3 separate regions of the Homo sapiens genome follow, and all the other regions are linked to region 2. Evidence: fine-mapped expression QTL. A gene starts in region 2. Each other region holds a variant in brackets. All regions are shown on one strand. Distances are from middle to middle.

Region 1 (8,189 bases), 120 kb after region 2:
TGGCCAACATCTCTCCATTTTTCCCCAGACCCTGGTACTCCCCACTCGACTCTCTACTTCTATGAGTTTGGCTACTTCACATCCTACATATAAAAAGGATCTTGCAGTAGTTGTCTCTCTGTGCCTGGCTTATTTCACATAGCATAATGCTGTCTAGGTTCATCCATGTTGTCACAAATGCCAGAGTTTCTTTCCTTTAAAAGGCTGAATAATATCCCATTATGTATATATACCACATTTTCATTATCCATCATCTGTTGATGGACACTTAGGTCCACAACCCAGTTTTAAAACTTAATAGTCCGTTACATTGACTCCTTTCATGTTGGTCAGTAGTTGCTTTTTTTTTTCTTCATGTTTTAGAGCATTTAATATGTTTTAGGTACCAGGCTAAGCACTTTGCATGCCTTGTTTCACTTTATCTTCATAAAACTCCATTAAATAAGTTCTAATATTATCATGATTTTATAGTTTAGGAAGCTAAAGCATAGAGGAATAAATTGCTTGGATATCATGGAACCAGTAAGTGGTGGAAATGGGATTCAGATGCAGATCCGTCTGATTCCAGAACACGTGTTCTTAACCAATGTGCCTTTACTAATTCCCCATATAGACTAGCTTATGAGCCCTGAAAGGTTATTGATGTTTCTACCTCCCTTTTTTGGACTCATGGCAGTGTTCCTGAATATCTTCTTTTTCACCTATTTAGATCTTACCCTTTAAGATCAAGGTCAGGGGTGGAGCCAAGATGGCTGAATAGGAACAGCTCCGGTCTACAGCTCCCAGCCTGAGCAATGCAGAAGATGGGTGATTTCTGCATTTCCATCTGAGGTACCGGGTTCATCTCACTAGGGAGTGCCAGACAGTGGGTGCAGGTCACTGGGTGCAGCGCACCAGGTGTGAGCCGAAGCAGGGCGAGGCATTGCCTCACACGGGAAGTGCAAGGAGTCAGGGAGTTCCCTTTCCTAGTCAAAGAAAGCGGTGACAGACAGCACCTGGAAAATTGGATCACTTCTACCCTAATACTGTGCTTTTCCAACGGGCTTAAAAAATGGCACACCAGGAGATTATATCCCACACATGGCTCGGAGGGTCCTATGCCCACGGAGTCTCGCTGATTGCTAGCACAGCAGTCTGAGATCAAACTGCAAGGCAGCAGAGAGGCTGGGGGAGGGCCTCCTGCCATTGCCCAGGCTTGATTAGGTAAACAAAGCAGCTGGGAAGCTTGAACTGGGTGGAGCCCACCACAGCTCAAGGAGGCCTGCCTGCCTCTGTAGGCTCCACCTCTGGGGGCAGGGCACAGACAAACAAAAAGACAGCAGTAACCTCTGCAGGCTTAAATATCCCTGTCTGACAGCTTTGAAGAGAGTAGTGGTTCTCCCAGCATGCAGCTGGAGATCTGAGAATGGGCAGACTGCCTCCTCAAGTGGGTCCCTGACCCCCAAGCAGCCTAACTGGGAGGCACCCCCCCAGTAGGGGCAGACTGACACCTCACACGGCCGGGTACTCCTCTGAGACAAAACTTCCAGAGGAACAATCAGGCAGCAGCATTTGCAGTTCACCAAGATCCGCTGTTCTACAGCCACTGCTGCTGATACCCAGGCAAACAGGGTCTGGAGTGGACCTCTAGCAAACTCCAACAGACCTGCAGCTGAGGGTCCTGTCTGTTAGAAGGAAAACTAACAAACAGAAAGGACATCCACACCAAAAACCCTCTGTACATCACCATCATCAAAGACCAAAAGTAGATAAAACCACAAAGATGGGGAAAAAACAGAGCAGAAAAACTGGAAACTCTAAAAAGCAGAGCGCCTCTCCTCCTCCAAAGGAACGCAGCTCCTCACTAGCAACGGAACAAAGCCGGACGGAAAATGAGTTTGACGAGCTGAGAGAAGAAGGCTTCAGACGATCAGACTACTCCAAACTACAGGAGGAAATTCAAATCAATGGCAAAGAAGTTAAAAACTTTGAAAAAAAATTAGATGAATGGATAACTAGAATAACCAACACAGAGAAGTCCTTAAAGGAGCTGATTGAGCTGAAAGCCAAGGCTCGAGAACTACGTGAAGAATGCAGAAGCCTCAGGAGCCGATGCGATCAACTGGAAGAAAGGGTATCAGTGATGGAAGATGAAATGAATGAAATGAAGCGAGAAGGGAAGTTTAGAGAAAAAAGAATAAAAAGAAACGAACAAAGCCTCCAAGAAATATGGGACTATGTGAAAAGACCAAATCTACGTCTGATTGGTGTACCTGAAAGTGATGGGGAGAATGGAACCAAGTTGGAAAACACTCTGCAGGATATTATCCAGGAGAACTTCCCCAATCTAGCAAGGCAGGCCAACATTCAGATTCAGGAAATACAGAGAACGCCACAAAGATACTCCTCGAGAAGAGCAACTCCAAGACTCATAATTTTCAGATTCACCAAAGTTGAAATGAAGGAAAAAATGTTAAGGGCAGCCAGAGAGAAAGGTCGGGTTACCCACAAAGGGAAGCTCATGAGACTAACAGCTGATCTCTCGGCAGAAACTCTACAAGCCAGAAGAGAGTGGGGGCCAATCTTCAACATTCTTAGAGAAAAGAATTTTCAACCCAGAATTTCATATCCAGCTAAACTAAGCTTCAAAAGTGAAGGATAAATAAAATCCTTTACAGACAAGCAAATGTTGAGAGATTTTGTCACCACCAGGCCTGCCCTAAAAGAGCTCCTGAAGGAAGCACTAAACAAGGAAAGGAACAACCAGTACCAGCCACTGCAAAACCATGCCAAAATGTAAAGACCATCAAGGCTAGGAAGAAACTGCATCAACTAACGAGCAAAATAACCAGCTAACATCATAATGACAGGACCAAACACACACATAACAATATTAACTTTAAATGTAAATGGGCTAAATGCTCCAATTAAAAGACACAGACTGGCAAATTGGATAAAGAGTCCAGACCCATCAGTGTGCTGTATTCAGGAAACCCATCTCACATGCAGAGACACACATAGGCTCACAATAAAGGGATGGAGGAAGATCTACCAAGCAAATGGAAACCAAAAAAAGGCAGGGGTTGCAATCCTAGTCTCTGATAAAACAGACTTTAAACCAACAAAGATCAAAAGAGACAAAGAAGGCCATTACATAATGGTAAAGGGATCAATTCAACAATAAGAGCTAACTATCCTAAATATATGTGCACCCAATACAGGAGCACCCAGATTCATAAAGCAAGTCCTTAGTGACCTACAAAGAGACTTAGGCTCCCACATAATAATAATGGGAGACTTTAACACCCCACTGTCAACATTAGACAGATCAACGAGACAGAAAGTTAACAAGGATACCCAGGAATTGAACTCAGCTCTGCACCCAGCAGACCTAATAGATATCTACAGAACTTTCCACCCCAAATCAACAGAATATACATTTTTTTCAGCACCACACCACAGCTATTCCAAAATTGACCACATAGTTGGAAGTAAAGCACTCCTCAGCAATTGTAAAAGAACAGAAATTATAACAAACTGTCTCTCAGACCACAGTG[C/T]GATCAAACTAGAACTCAGGACTAAGAAACTCACTCAAAACTGCTCAACTACATGGAAACTGAACAACTTGCTCCTGAATGACTATTGGGTACATAATGAAATGAAGGCAGAAATAAAGATGTTCTTTGAAACCAACGAGAACAAAGACACAACATACCAGAATCTCTGGGATGCATTCAAAGCAGTGTGTAGAGGGAAATTTATAGCACTAAATGCCCACCAGAGAAAGCAGGAAAGATCCAAAATTGACACCCTAACGTCACAATTAAAATAACTAGAAAAGCAAGAGAAAACACATTCAAAAGCTAGCAGGAAGCAAGAAATAACTAAAGTCAGAGCAGAACTGAAGGAAATAGAGACACAAAAAACCCTTCAAAAATTTAATGAATCCAGGAGCTCGTTTTTTGAAAGGATCAACAAAATTGATAGACAGCTAGCAAGAGTAATAAAGAAGAAAAGACAGAAGAATCAAATAGATGCAATAAAAAATGATAAAGGGCATATCACCACCGATCCCACAGAAATACAAACTACCATCAGAGAATACTACAAACACCTCTACACAAATAAACTAGAAAATCTAGAAGAAATGGATAAATTCCTCAAAACATACACCCCCCCAAGACTAAACCAGGAAGAAGTTGAATCTCTAAATAGACCAATAACAGACTTTGAAATTGTGGCAATAATCAATAGCTTACCAACCAAAAAGAGTCCAGGACCAGATGGATTCACAGCCGAATTCTACCAGAGGTACAAGGAGGAACTGGTACCATTCCTTCTGAAACTATTCCAATCAATAGAAAAAGAGGGAATCCTCCCTAACTCATTTTATGAGGCCAGCATCATCCTGATACCAAAGCCGGGCAGAGACACAACCAAAAAAGAGAATTTTAGACCAACATCCTTGATGAACATTGATGCAAAAATCCTCAATAAAATACTGGCAAACCGAATCCAGCAGTACATCAAAAAGCTTATCCACCATGATCAAGTGGGCTTCATCCCTGGGATGCAAGGCTGGTTCAACATATGGAAATCAATAAACGTAATCCAGCATATAAACAGAACCAAAGACAAAAACCATGATTATCTCAATAGATGCAGAAAAGGCCTTTGACAAAATTCAACAACCCTTCATGCTAAAAACTCTCAATAAATTAGGTATCGATGGGATGTATCTCAAAATAATAAGAGCTATCTATGACAAACCCACAGCCAATATCATACTGAATAGACAAAAACTGGAAGCATTCCCTTTGAAAACTGGCACAAGACAGGGATGCCCTCTCTCACCATTCCTATTCAACATAGTGTTGGAAGTTCTGGCCAGGGCAATTAGGCAGGAGAAGGAAATAAAGGGCATTCAATTAGGAAAAGAGGAAGTCAAATTGTCCCTGTTTGCAGATGACATGATTATATACCTAGAAAACCCCATTGTCTCAGCCCAAAATCTCTTTAAGCTGATAAGCAACTTCAGAAAAGTCTCGGGATACAAAATCAATGTATGAAAATCCCAAGCATTCTTATACACCAATAACAGACAAACAGAGAGCCAAATCATGAATGAACTCCCATTCACAATTGCTTCAAAGAGAATAAAATACCTAGGAATCCAACTTACAAGGGATGTGAAGGACCTCTTCAAGGAGAACTACAAACCACTGCTCAATGAAATAAAAGAGGATACAAACAAATGGAAGAACATTCCATGCTCATGGATAGGAAGAATCAATATCGTGAAAATGGCCATACTGCCCAAGGTAATTTATAGATTCAATCCCATCCCCATCAAGCTACCAATGACTTTCTTCACAGAATTGGAAAAAACTACTTTAAAGTTCATATGGAACGAAAAAAGAGCCCACATTGCCAAGTCAATCCTAAGCCAAAAGAACAAAGCTGGAGGCATCACGCTACCTGACTTCAAACTATACTACAAGGCTACAGTAACCAAAACAGCATGGCACTGGTACCAAAACAGAGATATAGATCAATGGAACAGAACAGAGCCCTCAGAAATAATGCCGCATATCTACAGCCATCTGATCTTTGACAAACCTGACAAAAACAAGCAATGGGGAAAGGATTCCCTATTTAACAAATGGTGCTGGGAAAACTGGCTAGCCATATGTAGAAAGCTGAAACTGGATCCCTTCCTTACACCCTATACAAAAATTAATTCAAGATGAATTAAAGACTTACATGTTAGACCTAAAACCATAAAAGCCCTAGAAGAAAACCTAGGCAATACCATTCAGGACATAGGCATGGGCAAGGACTTCATGTCTAAAACACCAAAAACAATGGCAACAAAAGACAAAATTGACAAACAGGATATAATTAAACTAAAGAGCTTCTGCACAGCAAAAGAAACTACCATCAGAGTGAACAGACAACCTACAAAATGGGAGAAAATTTTAGCAACCTACCTATCTGACAAAGGGCTAATATCCAGAATCTACAATGAAGTCAAACAAATTTACAAGAAAAAAACAAACAACCCCATCAAAAAGTGGGCGAAGGATATGAACAGACACTTCTCAAAAGAAGACATTTATGCAGCCAAAAAAACACATGAAAAAATGCTCATCATCACTGGCCATCAGAGAAATGCAAATCAAAACCACAATGAGATACCATCTCACACCAGTTAGAATGGCAATCATTAAAAAGTCAGGAAACAACAGGTGCTGGAGAGGATGTGGAGAAATAGGAACACTTTTACACTGTTGGTGGGACTGTAAACTAGTTCAACCATTGTGGAAGTCAGTGTGGCGATTCCTCAGGGATCTAGAACTAGAAATACCATTTGACCCAGCCATCCCATTACTGGGTATATACCCAAAGGATTATAAATCATGCTGCTATGAAGACACATGCACATGTATGTTTATTGCGGCACTATTCACAATAGCAAGGACTTGGAATCAACCCAAATGTCCATCAATGATAGATTGGATTAAGAAAATGTGGCACATATACACCATGGAATACTATGCAGCCATAAAAAATGAAGAGTTCATGTCCTTTTTAGGGACATGGATGAAACTGGAAACCATCATTCTCAGCAAACTATTGCAAGGACAAAAAACCAAACACCTCATGTTCTCACTCATAGGTGGGAATTGAACAATAAGAACACTTGGACACAGGAAGGGGAACATCACACTCCAGGGACTGTTGGGGGGTAGGGGTAGGGGGAGGGATAGCATTAGGGTATATACCTAATGTAAATGACAAGTTAATGGGTGCAGCACACCAACATGGCACATGTATACATATGTAACAAACCTGCACATTGTGCACATGTACCCTAAAACTTAAAGTATAATAATAAAATAAAATTAAAAAAAAAAAGATGAAGGTCAATTATAGCTTCTAACTTACTTCCTCTATGACCATGTCCATTCTGGGTGATCTGTCCCTCTTTTGAAATCCTTCAGTGCAAGGATGAGATGCTGTCTCATCAGAGTGTTTTATGTTTTTGTTGCTCAGGGCATTCCAAGTTATTGTCCCACAAGGTCAGAAACAAACATGATGTATGTAAATAGACATATTTCTCAACAGACATATTGGAGATGGCAGCTTTATAAACTCAGACTTGCGGTTCATTTGGAACAATGATTTCCAATGAAGACAGTGGTTCTAGATTCTCCTTCATTTATATTTAGGAAGTAAATTAAAAAAATAAAAAGATGGTTCTCTTGTTAGTTCTTCTCTTTATAGACATTTCTAGAAATAAACAGCTGAATTGATCCGATCTCATGGGAATCTTTATATTTAAATGCCCAAGGTAGGGGCAAAATGGACGAAACATGGCAGAATGCAAAAATATGCACCAAGAATCCTCAGAGGCAGATACTACTATATCGATATTCAGTAGAGTTTTGCTTTATTCTTGAATGTGCCAATAAATTGATGGGCAAATTTGGCATGCCACTCTGTCTTACTGGATTTTAGGTTTTCTTCTGTGTCGAAGGAAGAGGCAGTACCAGCTGTTGTAATACTATTTGATTCTAGGTGGGAGATGGAGTGTTAATAAAAAAGTTTGAAAGTTCATTCTTCAGGAGGAAGTACTAGGGAGAGAAGATAAATGAAGAAAAACTGAGAAGAAATATGAAATGGAATAGAGAAGTGGGGAATAAATAAATATAAATACTGACTGGGAGGGCTCAGGGAAACTGTTGGTTGCTACCGATTCTCTATTTCCCATTTTCCTCTGTTAACACAATCCCCATCTTGTTTGTGGAGACACTGTGTTCTGCACCATTAGATGAGGTGACTGCCCCAAGCAATAAGGTGACTCCTGTTTCTGGCTTTCCCTGTTTCCTTGGCAGCGAGGTGGGACTGTGTGACCCAATTCTGACCATGAGACCTAAAAACTAGAAATCTTCTTGGGAAATTTTTGGAAAAGCCATTGCTTTCCTGGTAACTGGAGGAAAATCCAGCTTTACATCACTCTTCCCCTTCTTCCTGCTTTGAACATGAACTTGATGTCTGGAGTGACAGTAGCCATCTTTCCATCTATTAGGAGTCAATGTAACATAAAAACCAGTGCCTGAAGAATGGAGGAACAGGAAAGGTAGGAAGAACCTAGGAGCCTCAGGGCATGGCTGAATAGCTGCCGCAATGCCAGCAAGCACTTACTT
Region 2 (8,173 bases):
TCCAGGTGTAAGCCACCACACCTGACCAACAGCTGAATTATTTATAACAGCCAAAAAGTAGAAACAACCCAAATGTTGATCAATAAATGGTAAGAAGTGATATATCCAAATAATGAAATATTTAGCAATAAGAAGAAATTGAATACTGATATATGCTACCACATAGAACTTTGAAAACAATATGCTATGTGAAAGAAGCCAGTCACAAAAAGACAACATAGTATATGCTTCCATGTACAGGAAATATTCAGAATAGGCTAGTTTATAGAGACAGAAAGTAGATTAACTGTTGTCTAAGGCTGGAAGGGGCTTGGGAGTGAATAGTTTCTTTTTGGGGTGATGAAAATGTTCTAAAATAGACTGCAGTGATGGTTTCACAACTCTGACTATACTAAAAACCATTGAATTGTCCATTTTAAATAGTATATATTGTATGATTTGTGACATATCTTATTAAAGTTTATTAAAGCTGTTATAAAAAAGAGCATTTACAGCCACACACAAAAATATTATGAAGAAAACAGGTAATTTTTTTTTTAGAATCTAGGATTTTTCAAAGTTATTTTCTAAGAATGATAAAAATCTAAAAAGTTACAATATCATTAGACTAAAAATTTAAACCATTTATGTGACCAAAAAAGGGTAAAAATATAAATGTCTTTAGTTGTCTGTATTCTCCAGCAGATAGCATGCTCCAAAAGCACTGACCTTGTTGTACGTGAAAACCTAATGTTAGGTATACATATTTGTTGACTAAATATTAGATAGTCCTTGACACATGGTACTATAAAAGATTAATGCTTTTCAGAGTAATTTTCTGTGAAAAGGCAATAAAAATCTGTGTTTGGTCATTTTTTTTAAAGTGGCAAAGAAATGAACTTACTTACGCATACTAAAAACTATAGCACTGGGGCCAGGCATGGTGGCTCATGCCTATAATCCCAGCACTTTGGGAGGCTGAGGTAGGAGGATCACTTGAGGCCAGGAGTTTGAGACCAGCCTGGCCAACATGGCAAAACCCCGTCTCTACTAAAAATACAAAATTAGGCATGGTGGTGGGCACCTGTGATCCCAGGTACTACGGAAGCTCAGGCACGAGAATCACTTGAACCCGGGAGGCAGAGGTTGCAGTGAGCTGAGATTACATCACTGCCCTCCAGCCTGGTCAACAGAGCAAGACTGTGTCAAAAAAACCCCAAAAAACAAAAAAACTATATTGGCAACACTTTTTAAGCCTTAGATAACTATTCACCTATCCTCAATTTTGGAAAAAAAAAAGTATATTAAATACATAAAGATATTCTAGAACTCAGTTCAAGAGTTCAAATACACTATAACGAATATTTAAAATATTTAGTTTTCAATGCATTGTAGTTTAGTGCATAGAAGTTATTTACTTCTGAAAACTGATGACTGACATATGACAAACTATTTCTACTGCTTGTATAGCTACTGATTTTCTTGAGAATATTTGGAACTGTGTAGTCTGAATTTCTCCAAAGGATTGGAAAAAAAAGTCACAACCTTTACCCCTTTTCTGAAAACACATCTGATATCTCACTTTAGAGATTGGAATATTCAGTCTCCGTGGTTGAGAAGAGAAGTCACAAAGTCCACTGAACTCATAGCATCACCATATCAAAGTCACACTGATGGCACATTGGTGTCTACCTCTTTCATGCCAGCAGGCTACGAAAATGGCAATGAATTGCCATCCAAAGAAAACAGAAATGGTAGTGGAATTTGGTTAGCACTGGGCCCAAGGCTGATTGCATCTAAATTAGGCTCTAAGGCAGATAGCATCTGACTACTTTAACGTTCCAAACACCATCTTATCCATACATTAAGTGCAGCAAAAAATGCATGGGTGACATGAAATTTAAACAAAGTTCTAATTTCTTAATATATGGAAGCCAAATTTAACAAAATTCTACTTTCATGAAATTTCATAAGAATATCCTTGAATTTGGAATATTTAGACTTAATGATTCTATCACCAAAACTTAAGTAAACTAAAGATTTAAAAAAATTAAGCCAGTTATGACAGAATATGAGATCCTTTAGGGAACTTTTCTGTTTGAATTAACGACAACAACAAAAATTTAAGTAAAACTTTAAAAAGACCATCCAACTTCATCTGTCACGATGGTTCACAGAATACCCATAACACGATAAAGCCCTTAGAGTTAATTTAATTTAATTTTTTTTTGAGACGGAGTCTGGCTCTTTCACCTAGGCTGGAGTGCAGTGGTGCGATCTCAGCTCACTGCAACCTCCACCTCCGGGTTCAAGTGATTCTCCTACCTAAGCCTCCTGAGTAGCTGGGATTACAGGAGTGGGCCACAACGCCCAGCTAATTTTTGTATTTTTAGTAGAGATGGGGTTTCACAATGTTGGCCAGGCTGGTCTTGAACTCCTGACCTCAGGTGATCCATCCGCCTCAGCCTCCCAGAGTGCTGGGATTACAGGCTTGAGCCACCACGCCCAGCCCTTAATTTTAGACAACGCAGAAAAACTGGCTCCAGATACACTTGGGTGACTTGGTCAACATATGAATGTTAACCATGATGTGACAGATCAGACTTCAATTTCTTTAGACTGAACTAGAATGGCTCCGAAGACGAAAGTCAGGTCAGGACCAGGGAGAAAAACTGGGCAAATACGATTTTTTTTTTTCCATTTCCAACAGAGGTTTGAAGATTAGAACCAGGATTTGGGAAGCCTCAGTTCAGGAGTCCACCGAGGTGTGTGTGTGTTGACAGGTGGTGGTGATGCCGAGGGCGTGTTGACAAGTTTTCCCCGCCCTTGACCTTTAGCCTAGATATTAATTCTACCAACTGGGGCAACCCCAGAGGGAGGAAGCCAGGGTCCCCCAACAGGCTGACAGCGCGTGACCTTTGCCCTAGATAGCCTGAGAAAGCTGATGAGAGAAGGGGCGAGAGGTGCCTACAGCCCCCAGGACCGGCCTTGTCCCTTTTGCCCTAACTCCTCCACTTATCCCCACCGCCCGTTTCCTCTCACCCAGGCAGGACAGCTTGGCTAGCGGCACCAGCATGTTCAAAGTCACCAGGACTCTCGGTCGGACACAACAGGAGGACTGTCCGCTGCTCGCGGCGGGCGCTGGACCTCTAGGCCGCGGGGGGCGCCATCACCTGCCGGAAAGCAAGAACTCTGCTGCAGTTCGCCTCCCCGCTCTGCCGACCGCTCTTGCTTCACGGCGTTCCCACCTCCTTCTCGCTCTGCGCCGGCGCCATGGATGACGCAACGGCCAGCCGAGGCTTCCGGGTCATGTACCAAACCAGGGAAAGATAAGGGACTCCAAGTCCCAGCCGGGGAGCGGTGAAACAGCCACAGCGCGGCCAGAGGGGTCCGCGAATCCCACAGCACGACGCACGCGCAGTGAAAGGCAGTAGAAGGCGGGGCGACGCACACGGCTTCCTGGGAGGTGTAGTTTTCTCTACGAGTGCCCTTCGAGATCGATTGGAGGCTCGCGCAGGAGCCGTGAGTTGCCTAAGGTGAATTGACTCATATGATTGGCTGTCCCGAAAAATGAAACGTCTTTGTGGTCCGGGGCTGAGACCCACGAGGAGACTGGGCGGGATTTCTGGCGTTAGGAGGCGGGGCCTTTCGGCTTTGGGCGCGAGTGGTTAAAAGACAGTTGGTGTCGGTTCGGCTTCTCGGGTCGGATTCCGCGGTCCCAACCCTTCCCCATGGCCGACCCTGAGGAGTTGCAGGTTTCTTCGCCGCCCCCGCCGCCTCCCTCTTCTCCCTCCTCTTCAGACGCCTCTGCAGCATCTTCCCCGGGCGGCCCAGTGAGTTTGGGCTGGCCAGTTCCGAGCAGGAGCAGCGGCCCAACGGTGGACCAGCTGGAGGAAGTGGAGCTGCAGATCGGAGACGTGAGTGTGGTGTCGGGACCGCGTCCCCCCTCGGCGCCTCTGGGAAGACCGGCGGCGGCGGGGCTCGCGAGGCTAGGGAATCGGTCCCCCAACCCCCATGACCCGGGACGACCGGCCCTTCTGCGCCCCAGAGCGTGCGGGCGGGAAGCGGGGGGGATGCCAGCAGCTAAAGTGCCACCCCTCTCTGAGGGTTCCCCCTTTAGATTTAGTGGTGAGGAGTCTTAAGGGGTTTTCCTTCCACCCGCCCCACCCCTCACTGGTTTCTTTTTGTCTCGCCTTCTGGTTTCAATCATCCGCAGTAACCCGAAGCCACGCAGCTCTGCGCTGCCTGTTGCTGGCTCTCTGCCTCCTCCTTTCCCATCGGAGAATAGTTTTCATTGCATGGGTTTCGGAGAATAGTTTTCACTGCATGAGTTTGCTGGCTTTCTGTGGGTACTTGAGATCAGGCTGTGATTTCTTTCCATGGGACTTAGAGCCTGCTGTTCTAGTTGGCCACCTGCCCAGGGACAGCTGATAATGCCATTGTCTGCCCCAGGCCTGCTTAGCGCTGGACCCAGCTTGAAGGGTTTAGGTCACGTGGATTGGCTTCTTTGACGGTTTAGTTCAGGACTCCTCCCTTTGTATGATTGCTAGAATGCATACTTAGGATAGTTTCTGTTAAATCTCGAATCCCCAGAAACTAGCACCCCACCTCCCAACCGTAACTCACACACCACTGGAGGGGAGAAGACAGGGAAGGGGAGTTTTATGTTCTCTTGAGTGGGTCAAGTGGAATGAGGTATGTAGAGTGTAACCTGGGAGAGTTCTGTGGCCTGACCTTTCCTGCAGATTGGAAACTAGGGGATGAACTAGATTATCTCATTGCTCCGCAAGTATTTTTTTTTAAGGATGACTAGAGTGCTTAACCAGCTTTTATTTTTGCAGAACAAACTGATTGCAAGTAAATATGTAGAATGAAGTGCTAATGTGTTATTGAGGAACACTGTTTTATTTTATATCATTGGTGAAGAAAACGTTTGGCTGAAAAGTGAATTTTCCACCAGGAGCTGAGTGTTTTCTGCATTTGTGTGTGATTTTTTAATGTTATTTGTCAGAGCTCAGAGTTTCTGTTCTTTGATCTATACATTTTCATTGTTTAAAGTGTTCACAGGTCAATGCCCATGTTACCCAAATAGCAGTAAGAATTATTTATGATGAAATCTCTCAGATATATCTGGCGCTTAGTGTCAAGGGGTCCAAGTCATCTTGTTGAGCTGAGACTCTAGTGTATTTTCATAGAAAACAGCAATCCTGGGCCAAGCACGGTGGCTCACGCCTGTAATCCCAGCACTTTGGGAGGCTGAGGCAGGCGGATCACCTGAGGTCAGGAGTTCGAGACCAGCGTGACCAACATGGAGAAACCCTGTTTCTACTAAAAATACAAAATTAGCTGTGCGTGGTGGCGCATGACTGTAATCCCAGCTACTAAGGAGGCTGAGGCAGGAGAATCACTTGAACCCGGGAGGCGGAGGTTGCAGTGAACCAAGATCGCGCCATTGCACTCCAGCCTGGGAAACGAGCGAAACTCCGTCTCAAAAAAAAAAAAAAAAAAAGAAAACAACTATACTGATTTGTCATATCTCAGACATAATGGATATTTTTCTAGCAGACCTGTTTCTTCAAAGTCTACTCAATATTAAAGAATTTCTTAGGTTCCGTGAAAGAGCCAGTGCTGTAGTTTGAAAACTGATTACTTTGAAAGAAAATAACATGGGCATTGGATTCAAAGCCTTAAGCTATTTTCAGCCTGCTTATAAAATGAGATGAGAATTTTAAAAATAAAATTATGTTTGACTTTTTTTTTTTAGGCAGCCTTTTCATTAACCAAACTTCTTGAAGCCACATCTGCAGTATCAGCTCAAGTGGAAGAACTTGCCTTCAAATGTACAGAAAATGCACGTTTCCTTAAAACGTGGCGGGACCTCTTGAAAGAAGGCTATGATTCTTTGAAACCTGATGACTGATTTGGCATACTTCGTTGTTTAATAATGACTGCAATAATTCATACTTCTTATGTCATATTTTGTACATGTACCACACATATAGGATGACCTCTGTCCAGCAGTTCTGTATATACTCAGAATGAAATTTTTCTTGGTTTTCTTGGTTTTTGTGAAAGCAGAATACCGATGCTATTTTTGTTGCGGACCAGTACTTGTTTGTCCTTAAATACTTTATGCCTCTGAACTTTCATAGAATCCTTTATGAAAGTTAACTTCATCAATAGACGGTTAATATTAATAGAGCCACAGTGCTACCAGTAGCAAACTAGGTAGACCATTATTTGTTTTGCAACAAGATGCTAAGCATGGCAGACTTTGAAGTTGCGTTTCATCTTAAGGACCAAGGGAGGTAACTTTAAGGTTGCCAGTGGTGGATCCAGCTCCGTTAGGCTAAGTTGTCTACAGCTAATGATTGTGTCTTTATTCTATATCCCCAGCACCTAAAACAGGGTCACACAACATTCACTAAATGTTTGTTGAATAAAAGAGTTAACAAACATAATTGAAAGCTTTTTTTCTTCCTATATTTAGCATGAAGACTGTCATTGTTTCTCTAGGAAATGTATGAATCTGAACTTTTTTGACTTGAAGAAAAACATTCTTTTTTTACAGAGATTTGGACTTTGATGATAGGTTTTAAAAATATATGATAAATATTTTTTGTACTTGTTTGATTTTTTTTTTAAAGACTTTACTTCAGAAAGGGAAAGACTGTTTAGAAAGAATGCATATTTTTTCCCTATTTATTTCTGTGGTTACTGCTTTTGCAGTTTAACAGTGTTTGTATTTGATATTTGTATATGTTTGATTGCTATCTTTAAAGTGCCTTATCAGATTTATGGCTCTGTGCTATTACTTTTTGAGCTTTGCAAGTTGTGTACATAATAATTCTAAAGAAGTTACTTTGTTTGCAATGCATCAAATTTAAATGATGTGATTTTTTTTGTATTATTTGATCTTAGTGACAGTGTTCTATTTTGCATCCTGTATCTTATGTTGCTTTTGGTGTTTTGTGTTGTGTGTCAACGATTAAGCCAACTAATTCTCTACCATATATAACTTCTGGACATTTTTGATACAACATCTTAATTCTTTGTAGATATGGAGATAGGTACAGAACTATATTCTAATGCCCCACAATGGGGCTATGAGAGGGGACAGATGGATGGGCAAAGAATAGTTTTGTTTAACATATTAGGTCATAGTTCTTGATTAGTTTTTTTAGTTAAAGATAAACACATAGGGTGTGATTTCTATACCAAAGATATGCTTATTTCAGTATTAGAAAAATATTCTTCTTACATCTCCTGAAAATTGCAATTTTTAAAATGTGTAAAAATAAATTATTATTAAAAGCACATTTTATTTCCATTTGTTTGGATTCATTACCTTAAAACTTTATTGACATATTTCAAAGATATAGGAAAGGTAAATGATTTCAAGAAAATCCGTGTATTTCTACCATGCAGATGTAATAAATGTTAGCATTTGGCTATATTTTCTTCAGACACACATATGCATGTAATTGCAAATGTTAGATACATTTGAAGTTTGCTTTGTTACCTGTTTGATCCTGTCCCGTTCCTCCCTCCCCAGAGTCCCCAGAGGTAACCACTAGAGGGGGCATAATATAGCATGTGTTTTTATATTTTTAATACAAATATATTTTTTAAAAGCGCTACAAAATATTGTTTTATATATGTGGTAGCCAGCTTCCAGATGGCCCCAGTGATCCCTGGCCTCCTGGTGTTCATGCCCCAGTATAGCCTTCTCCTGCATTTTACAGTGCTGACTTTTGTAACTACCAGGATATTGAGCAAATGCAGTGTGTGATTTCTGAGGCCATATCTTTTACTCTTTTTTTTTTTTTTAAGAGACAAGATCTCACTCTATTGCTCAGGCTGGAGTGTGGTGGCAGGATCATAGCTCACTGTAACCTTAAACTTGGACTCAAACAATCCTCCCATCTCGCCTCCTCCTATAAAGCACTGGGATTACAGGCATTTTTGCTCATTTTTCTATGTTGTTTTTTTTACTTGTCAGTTTTTAGATATTACATATTTTGAATACTAATGATCTGTTATGTATGTTCCAATTATCTTTTTTAGTCTGGTTTGTCTTCATATTTTGGTTATGAAATCTTGAATTTTTAAAAACGTAATTTTACCAATCTTTCATAATGATTTGCTTTTTCTGGTTTTTGTATAGGAAATGTCATAAAAATAGTCCTATTCA
Region 3 (8,189 bases), 35 kb after region 2:
CAATATCTGTGAACAGTTATTAGAGCTGAGGAGAACTTCTTACAAGACCAAGTGGATTCCCCTCACATCATGTTTCCTGAGATTCAAAAAATCTCCTATGAGATTCTACCAGACTGTGGAAAACTAAAATCATCTCACCCAATATCAAAGGTTTAAGAGTTTTAATTATTGTTTAGACATGTCTCAGTCCACTTGGCTGCTGTAACAAAAATACCATAGACTGAGTGACTTAGACGACAAATGTTCATTTCTCACAGTTCTGGAGGCTGGGAAGACCAAGATCAAGGTGCCAGCAGATTCAGTGTCTGGTAGGGGACCACATGTTTCATAGATGGCCATCTTCTCTGTCTGTCTTCACAAGGTGGAGGGGCAAGGGTCGTCTCCAGAGTCTCTTTTCTTTTCTTTTTTTTTCTTTTTGAGATGGAGTCTCACTCTGTCGCCCAGGCTGGAGTGCAGTGGCACCATCTTGGCTCACTGCAACCTCCACCTCCAGGGTTCAAGCGATTCTCCTGCCTCAGCCTCCTGAGTAGCTGGAATCACCACCACGACTGGCTAATTTTTGTATTTTTAGTAGAGACGAGGTTTCACCATGTTGGCCAGGCTGGTCTTGAACTCTTGACCTCAGGTGATCCACCCACCTCGGCCGCCCAAAGTGCTGGGATTACAGGCATGAGCCACTGGCCTGGACCAGAGTCTGTTTTCTAAGGGCACTAATCCCACTCATGAGGGCTCTGTCCTCATGACCTAGTCACCTCCCAAAGGCCCTACCTCCTTGTACCATTGCATTGGGGTTAGTATTTCAATATATACATTTTGGAGGAACACAAACTTTCAGTTTATAGCTGGCAAATTAGTAGAAAATATTAATAGATTGGATGCATTATCATAATACACATGGAAACAAATATTAACATCACAGTGAAAAACAATAAAATATCTACTTACATGTGAGAGAGATTCATAAGAGGTCTAAACATCCTTTGTTGGATATTTGAAATTTCAATCCCTTCTAGGCTGCTAAAAATATCAAATTAATAATCAATCAAAGGAACATGTATTATACATGGTTTAATAAATTGAGTTTCTGTGAAGGACAATTTAATAAAATGCTTTTAGTTAACACTTACTCTGAACAAAATAATTATACTCAACCCACCCACTTCCCCAAATCCTCCTCCTTCTGATTGTGTTATTTATACACGTATTATCTTCCTTATTTGATTTTTTTCAGATCCTCACAGATCATGGCACAATGCTTTGTGCATTTTAACTAATCAATAAATATGTGTGGAATAAATGCACAAGCATTATCTTTTGTACAATATTACAATAGCAGAGGATGCTTTACATCCTTGAAAATTTCCTAGTAATTTTTAATTAATAAATTTTTTTCTAATAAAATGTCATTTTACTGAGGGAACACTCAAATTAAATGAACTGAAGCTTACCTTTTTTTTTTTTTTTTGAGACAGGGTCTTCCTCTGTTGCCCAGGCTGGTGTGGTGGTATGAACAGGGCTTACTGCAGCCTCAACCTCCCAACTCAAGCAATGTTCCCACCTCAGCCTCCCAAGTAGCTAGGACCACAGGTGCATGCCACCACACTCAACTAATTTGCTTATTTTTATTTTTTTGTAGAGGCAGCATCTCCCTATGTTGCCCAGGTTGTTCTTCAACTCCTGATCTCAAGCAATCCTCCTGCTTCGGACTCCCAAAGTGCTGAGTTTACAGGTGTGAACCACTGCACTCAGCCCTGAAGCTTATCTTTTAAGGCAATTCTTTGGCTCTAACAGAATTTTTGTCTTTTTGTGTGTGTGTGGTACAAGTAAGGATTTATATAATCTAGCATATTCCATCTTGGGGTAAAAACACTTATAATAAATTATAAAATACCCAGTGTTAAGAGAGTGAATATGCACAGATGTCTTTGAAGGGTCAAAGCAAACAAATCAACATAAGCTCCTAATGACTTATAGAAAAATATAAAATAATTCATCATTATTTTTTAATTTACAAGTATATAAGATAAAACTAATAGTTGTCTGTTTATAGTTCAGCAAGCACCCATATGTTTTTGTGGAGCTAAACTAATGTCTTGGAAATAAAGCTTATGATTTGAAGTAAATATATAAAAATATACATTGTTAGTATTTAAAAAACAATTTTATCATAAAACTATCCCCATATGTGAATACTTACAGAGACTTGAGTTTGACAAGATAATCAAATTGGTTTGCTTGAATTTTCTGGATTGGATTATAGGAAAGATTCCTGTTTTTTAAAAAAAGCAGCAATAGGTCATTTCTAAAAACTACATGAGTAAAGCGAGTGAATCTGTTTATTTTGGGTTACTTTAACATATTTATGAACGAAAGTATACAATAACTCGTAATGGATGAAAGACTTAAACTGTAAAATTATAAAACGACTAGAAGAAAACATAGGTGGAAAGCCCCAGGACATTAACCTGGGTGATGATTTTTTTGGATATTGCCCCAAAAATATAGGCAACAAAAGTGAAATAGATGAATGGGATTACATAAAACTAAAAAGCCTCTGCACAGCTAAGGAAACAATCAACAGAGTGAGGAGACAACCTGTGTAATGGGGGACAATATTTGCAAATCATATATCTGGTAAGTGGTTAATACCCAAAATGTGTAAGGAACTCAAACAACTCAGCAAGAAAACAAATAAGCTGGTTAAAAATTAGGGAAAGGGCTTGAATAGACATTTTTCAAAAGAAGACATATAAATGACTAACAGGTATATGAAAAAGTGCTCAACATCACTAATCATCAGAGAAATGCAAACTGAAACCACAATATTACCTCACACCTTTTAGAATAATTTTTATCAAAAAGATGAAAGATAAGGGTTGAGGATGATTTGAAGAAAAGGTTGCCCCTTGCATACTGGTGATGGGAATATAAATTAGTACAACCATTATGGAAAATAGTATGGGGCTTCCTCAAAAATCAAAAATTGAACTACTACATGATCCAGAAATTCCTCTACTGGATATATATCCAAAGGAAATAAAATCAGTATATTAAAGAGATTTCTGTACTCCCATATTCATTGCAGCATTATTCATAATAGCCAAGGTATGGATTCAACCCAAGTGTCCATCAAAGGATGACTTGATAAAAAAATATGTATACATACACAATAGAATACTATTCAGCCTTAAAAAACACAGAAAATCCTGTCATTTGCAACAACATGAATGAATCTGGAGGACATTATGCTACATGAAGTAAGTCAGGCATAGAAAGACAATTACCACATGATCTCATTTATATGTGGAATCTAAAAAAGTTGAACTCATGGAAGTAGAGAGTAGAAGGTGGTCACTAGAGGCAGGTGGGAAAGGATTGGAATATATTGGTCAAAAGGTACAAAAATTTCACTTAGAAAAGAGGAATAAGTTCAAGACATCTATTGTGTAACATGCTGACTATAGCAAATAACAATGTATTGTATTCTTGAAAATTGCTAAGAGAGTAGACGTTAAGTGTTCTCACCACAAAAAATAAGTATGTGAGATGATGCATATGTTAATTAGCCCAATTTAGGCATTCCACAATGTATACATATTTCAAAACATCATGTTGTACTGATAAATATATACAATTTTTGTTTGTCAGTGAAATAAAGAGATAGCAATAGCATTGGCCTCACAGGGTTGATTGTACATGTAAGTGAATTAATTAAGATAAAACACTTAGAACAGTGCCCAGCTTGTGGTAGATACTCTGTGATTACGGTAGTGATAGACTGAGACCTAATAAAACATAGGCATGAAGGCGGAGCTGTCAAGAAAGGGCTGCCACCAGAGAAGTGGTAGGGGACTGAGAAAGAGCCGCATCTACTTCACATTTTGCCTAAGATCAGATATGGTTTAAA[C/T]AAAATGAAATAAAATAATCTCATTTAGTCAAAATTTGAATTAATGGAATAATATATCATATATTTTACAATAAATCTTAAGTCATGAAACATGAAATGAAAAGTAGACTTTAAAGGGAATTTATTGTTATATTTTAATTTTTTAGAGATGGGGACTTGCTATGTTGCTCAGGCTGTACTCAAACTCCTGGGCTCAAGGGATCCTCCTGCCCCAGCTTCTCAACTCACTGGGACTACAAGCACCTGCCTTCTTAAAGAGAACTGAAAGGTAAATTTAAATGGAGAAAATTTCAGAATCTTTGAAAAACAACACCTTGAAACAAGAATCATTGATTAAAGGAAACTTCTCAGGAAAATTTCTCTTTTTAAAATATTTAGACTGGGTGTGGTGGCTCATGCCTGTAATCGCAGCATTTTGGGAGGCCGAGGTGAGAGAATGGCATGAGCCTTGAAGTCCAATATGAGCAGCCTGGGCAACATAATGAGGCCCCCATCTCTACAAAAACAAAATTAAAAAAAAAGAGGAAATAAACAAAAATATTTACTGAAGATTAGACCATAAGTTACATGGGGGATGGAAGGAACTGCTGGGGGAGCCACAGTTACAGAAAGAAGGAAAGAGAGAAAGAATGACAATGACCAATGGGTTGTATAAAAAAATGAAGTGGACTCAGCAAACTAAAAATAAAAGGAAACTACCTCACATAATAAAGGATGTATATGAAAACCCACACTCAATGGTAAAAGACCAAAAGCTTTCCCTTAAGAGTGGGAACAAGACAAGGATTCCTGCTTTTACCACTTTCATTCAACATAATGTTGGAAGTCCTAATTAGAACAATTCGGCAAGAAAAAAAAGTGAAAGGCAGGCATCCAAATTGTAAAAGAAGAAAAAAATGATCTCTGTTTACAGGTGATGTAATCTTATATGTAGAATATCCTAAAGATTTAACTAAAAAGAAATCCATTTGAACTAAAACATTCATCAACATTCCTGGATATAAAATTAACACACAAAAATCAGCTGTGTTTCTATATGCAATGAATAATCACAAAAGAAAATGAGGAAAAGAATTCCATTTACAATAGCATCAAAAGAATAATATACTTAAATAAACTTAACCAAGGAGGTGAAAGATAAATACCCTGGCAACTGCGAAACATTGCTGAAAGAAAATAAGGAAGACACCAATGAAAGGAAAGACATGCTATGTTCACAGATCAGAAGACTTAATATTAAGATGTCAGTATTGCTCAAAGTGAGCTACAGATTCAAAGCAACCTGCCAAAATCCCATTGCCTTTTTTTTTTGCAGAAATATGAAAATCCATCCTAAAATTCATATGGAAAATGCAGGGAGCCCACATAGCCAAACAATCTTGAAAAAAGCAGAACAAAATTGGAGATTTTACACCACTTAATTTCAAAACATACTACAAAGCTACAGCAATCAGTGTGGTACTGGCTGAAATACAGACATGTAGACTAATGGAATAGAATAGAGAGCTCAGGAATAAACTCACAGATATATGGTCAAATGATTTTCAACAAGGGTGCCAAGGACATTCAATGGGGAAAGAGTAGTCTTTTCAATAAATTGTGTTGAGAAAACTGGACATCCACATGCAAAAGAATGAAGTTGGATCCTTACCTTACACCATGTACATAAGTTAACTCAAAATGGATTTAAGACCTAAATATTAAAGCTAAAAACTATAAGACTCTTAGAAGAAATCATACAGGAAAAGCTTCATGACATGACACCAATGACATTTGGTGTTATTTTGGATATGACACCAAAAGCATAAGTAACAAAAAAAGAAATTTAAAAATTAGACTATACATAAATTAAAAACTTTTGTGCATCAAAGGACACCATAATAGAGTGAAAAGGCAGCCCATACAATGGGAGAAAATATTTGAAAATCATGTATCTGAAAAGAAGTTAACATCCAGAATATATAAGAACTCCAACAATCTAACAACTACAGAAAACCTGAACAATCCAATTGAAAAATGAGTGAATGACTTGAACAGATTTTTCTGCAAGAAGGTATCCAAATGGCCAATAAGCACATGAAAAGTTGCTCAACATCACTAATCACTGGGAATCACAAAACAAAATCACAGTGAGATACCATTTCACATCCATTAGCATGCCTATTATCAAAAAAACAGAAAATACCAAGTGTTGGGAAGGATGTGGAGAAATGGAAACCCTAGTATACTACTAGCGGAAATGTAAAATGGTTAAACTCCTATGGAAAACAGAATGAAACATGCATTAAAAATAAAATGACAGAAATGTATGAAACAGCAATTCTACTTTTGAGAGTAGGTACCTAAAAATTGAAAGCAGAGTCAACAGATATTTGTACGCCCATGTTCATAGCAACATTATCCACAATAGGCAAAAGATGGAAGCAACTAAAATGTCCATTGATGGGTGAATAAACACTGCAATACATATACACAATGAAATATTGTTCAGCCTTAAGAAGGAAGGAAATTCATTTCTGCTACAACAGAAATGAAACTTGAAGACAGTATGCTAAGTAGAATAGGCCTGTCACAAAAAGATAAATATTCCATGATTTTACTTCTATGAGGTATCTGGAGTAGTCAAATTCACACAGACACAAAGTAGAATGGTGGTAGCCAGGGGATGGGGAAACGGTGAGTGGGAAGTTAGTGTTTAGTGGCTAGAGTTTCAGTTTTGCAACATGAAAAACTTCTGGAGGTAGATGGTGGTGGTGGTTGGGCAGCAATGTGAATGTAGCTAATGCTACTCAACTACACACTTAAAAATGGCTAATTTTATGTTATGCATATTTTACAATTTAAAAAATAATAAAATAAAGAAACGAGGTGGCAAAATTAACATCAGTCTTACAATTGTGACAGCTCCTTCAGGTCCTTGAATATAAGCGGTGGAAGATTTTCAATCTTATTACTTCCTAAATCCCTGGAGAAATAATTGCAAATATGTGATATTATTTTCTTAAGACTTTACTCATTGTTCTGAAATTCATTAGGAAACCACTATACAACTTTTCAACAATGCCATTGGTGAGTTATATTAATCACCAGAAGTCTAAAAATTTAAAAAAGGAGCAAAGTTGGAAAATATAAAAATATTTTATTCCATTTCATCATCCCCTGGAAGACAAATACTTGATGGTATTTGATCTTTTTTTTTTGAGACCGAGTATCACTCTGTCACCCAGGCTGGAGTGTAGTGGTGCGATTTTGGCACACCACAACCTCTGTCTCCCGGGTTCAAGTGATTCTCCTGCCTCAGCCTCCCCAGTAGGTGAGATTACAGGTGTGTGCTACCACGCCTGGCTAATTTTTGTATTTTTAGTAGAGACGGGGTTTCACTATGTTGGCCAGGTTGGTCTCGAACTCCTGACCTTGTGATCCAATCGCCTCAGCCTCCCAAAGTCCTGGGATTACAGGCGTGAGCCACTGCACCTGGCCTGATCTGGTTTTAATCAATCGCATTTTCTCATTCTTTTGATTTCTGTGTTGTGCCCCTTCTTCCTTTGTTCTCTTTTTTTGTGTGTTAGAATAGATGCATGGTTTGCGATCTTAATTTTTTTCTTCCGCTTAGGATTGTTGTGATTATTATGGAAGTGTATTATTTCAAGTTCGAGTTTCTTCCACAGCTGATATACACAGGCTCTCATATTATCCTGGGGTAGGATACTTTGCATGCCATCTCATGTATGTGTAGAGGGTCTGCTTAACATGGTATGACCTCGTACCTTAGTCCTAAAAAGGTGTTTGACAGCAGCACCTCTCGTGGTAGCTTTGACAGTGGCAGCTCTCATGTGAAAGGCCTCAGATTCTTTTATACAAGAAAAAGTTTCAATAGACTTGAGCTCTGTAAGGTGATCAAGAGATACTAAGGGAAAGTCTAACCTTTTCTTCTATTCATCTCCAAATCATATTTGTTGCCACTGGGATAGGTAGGAGAATGAATAGATGTATTTGTTATATATGCTGGTTTGCTTATAAGGCAAACGTTAGATTTTTTGACCTCGAAGGGTAGGACAATTTTTAGACTGAGTTTTTAAAACTAAAAATAAGTGGCTAATATAATGTGATAAATATTATAAACGTCTTTGCTGCAAACTGAACCTGGAGACTATTGCTGTTAGTTACATATTTATCGGTGAATTGTCAACAGATTGTTCTGATTAGACAACTGAAGGAATTACTCAAAAATTCCATCTCTTTCATAAAGAGTTGGAATCTCCTTCAATAGCTTACTGTACCT

Which allele goes with the higher level. Positions count from the first base shown, and alleles are read on the strand shown. Sizes are in standard deviations (SD) of each study's normalised expression.
As copies of T replace C in region 1, the expression in spleen of the gene that starts at base 3,216 in region 2 goes up (moderate effect, 0.57 SD a copy in GTEx).
As copies of T replace C in region 3, the expression in tibial artery of the gene that starts at base 3,216 in region 2 goes down (moderate effect, 0.51 SD a copy in GTEx).

Evidence for each region.
Region 1: its variant is fine-mapped to the expression of ETFDH in spleen (GTEx, PIP above 0.99).
Region 3: its variant is fine-mapped to the expression of ETFDH in tibial artery (GTEx, PIP 0.98).

What each region holds. Positions count from the first base shown.
Region 1 is chr4:158,543,145-158,551,333 of GRCh38, reverse strand. All of the region lies in intron 1 of RXFP1 (relaxin family peptide receptor 1), which reads right to left. The region is part of intron 3 of RXFP1-AS1 (RXFP1 antisense RNA 1); the gene reads left to right. Among named protein-coding and RNA genes, the nearest start is that of RXFP1-AS1, 17 kb to the left of the region's middle. The variant C/T (reference allele first, on the strand shown) is at 3,537.
Region 2 is chr4:158,667,339-158,675,511 of GRCh38, reverse strand. ETFDH (electron transfer flavoprotein dehydrogenase) reads right to left here and starts at 3,216. Exons shown (of 13, transcript NM_004453.4): 1 at 3,022-3,216. The coding sequence starts at 3,055. C4orf46 (chromosome 4 open reading frame 46) reads left to right here and starts at 3,625. Exons shown (of 2, transcript NM_001008393.4): 1 at 3,625-3,896; 2 at 5,744-8,173. The coding sequence starts at 3,711. The coding sequence ends at 5,899. RefSeq lists enhancers at 2,868-3,369, 2,971-3,530, 3,373-4,009, 4,010-4,646 and a silencer at 3,951-4,020.
Region 3 is chr4:158,632,088-158,640,276 of GRCh38, reverse strand. It overlaps RXFP1 (relaxin family peptide receptor 1), which reads right to left. Exons shown (of 18, transcript NM_021634.4): 12 at 6,801-6,872; 13 at 2,198-2,269; 14 at 946-1,017. Among named protein-coding and RNA genes, the nearest start is that of C4orf46, 36 kb to the left of the region's middle. The variant C/T (reference allele first, on the strand shown) is at 3,908.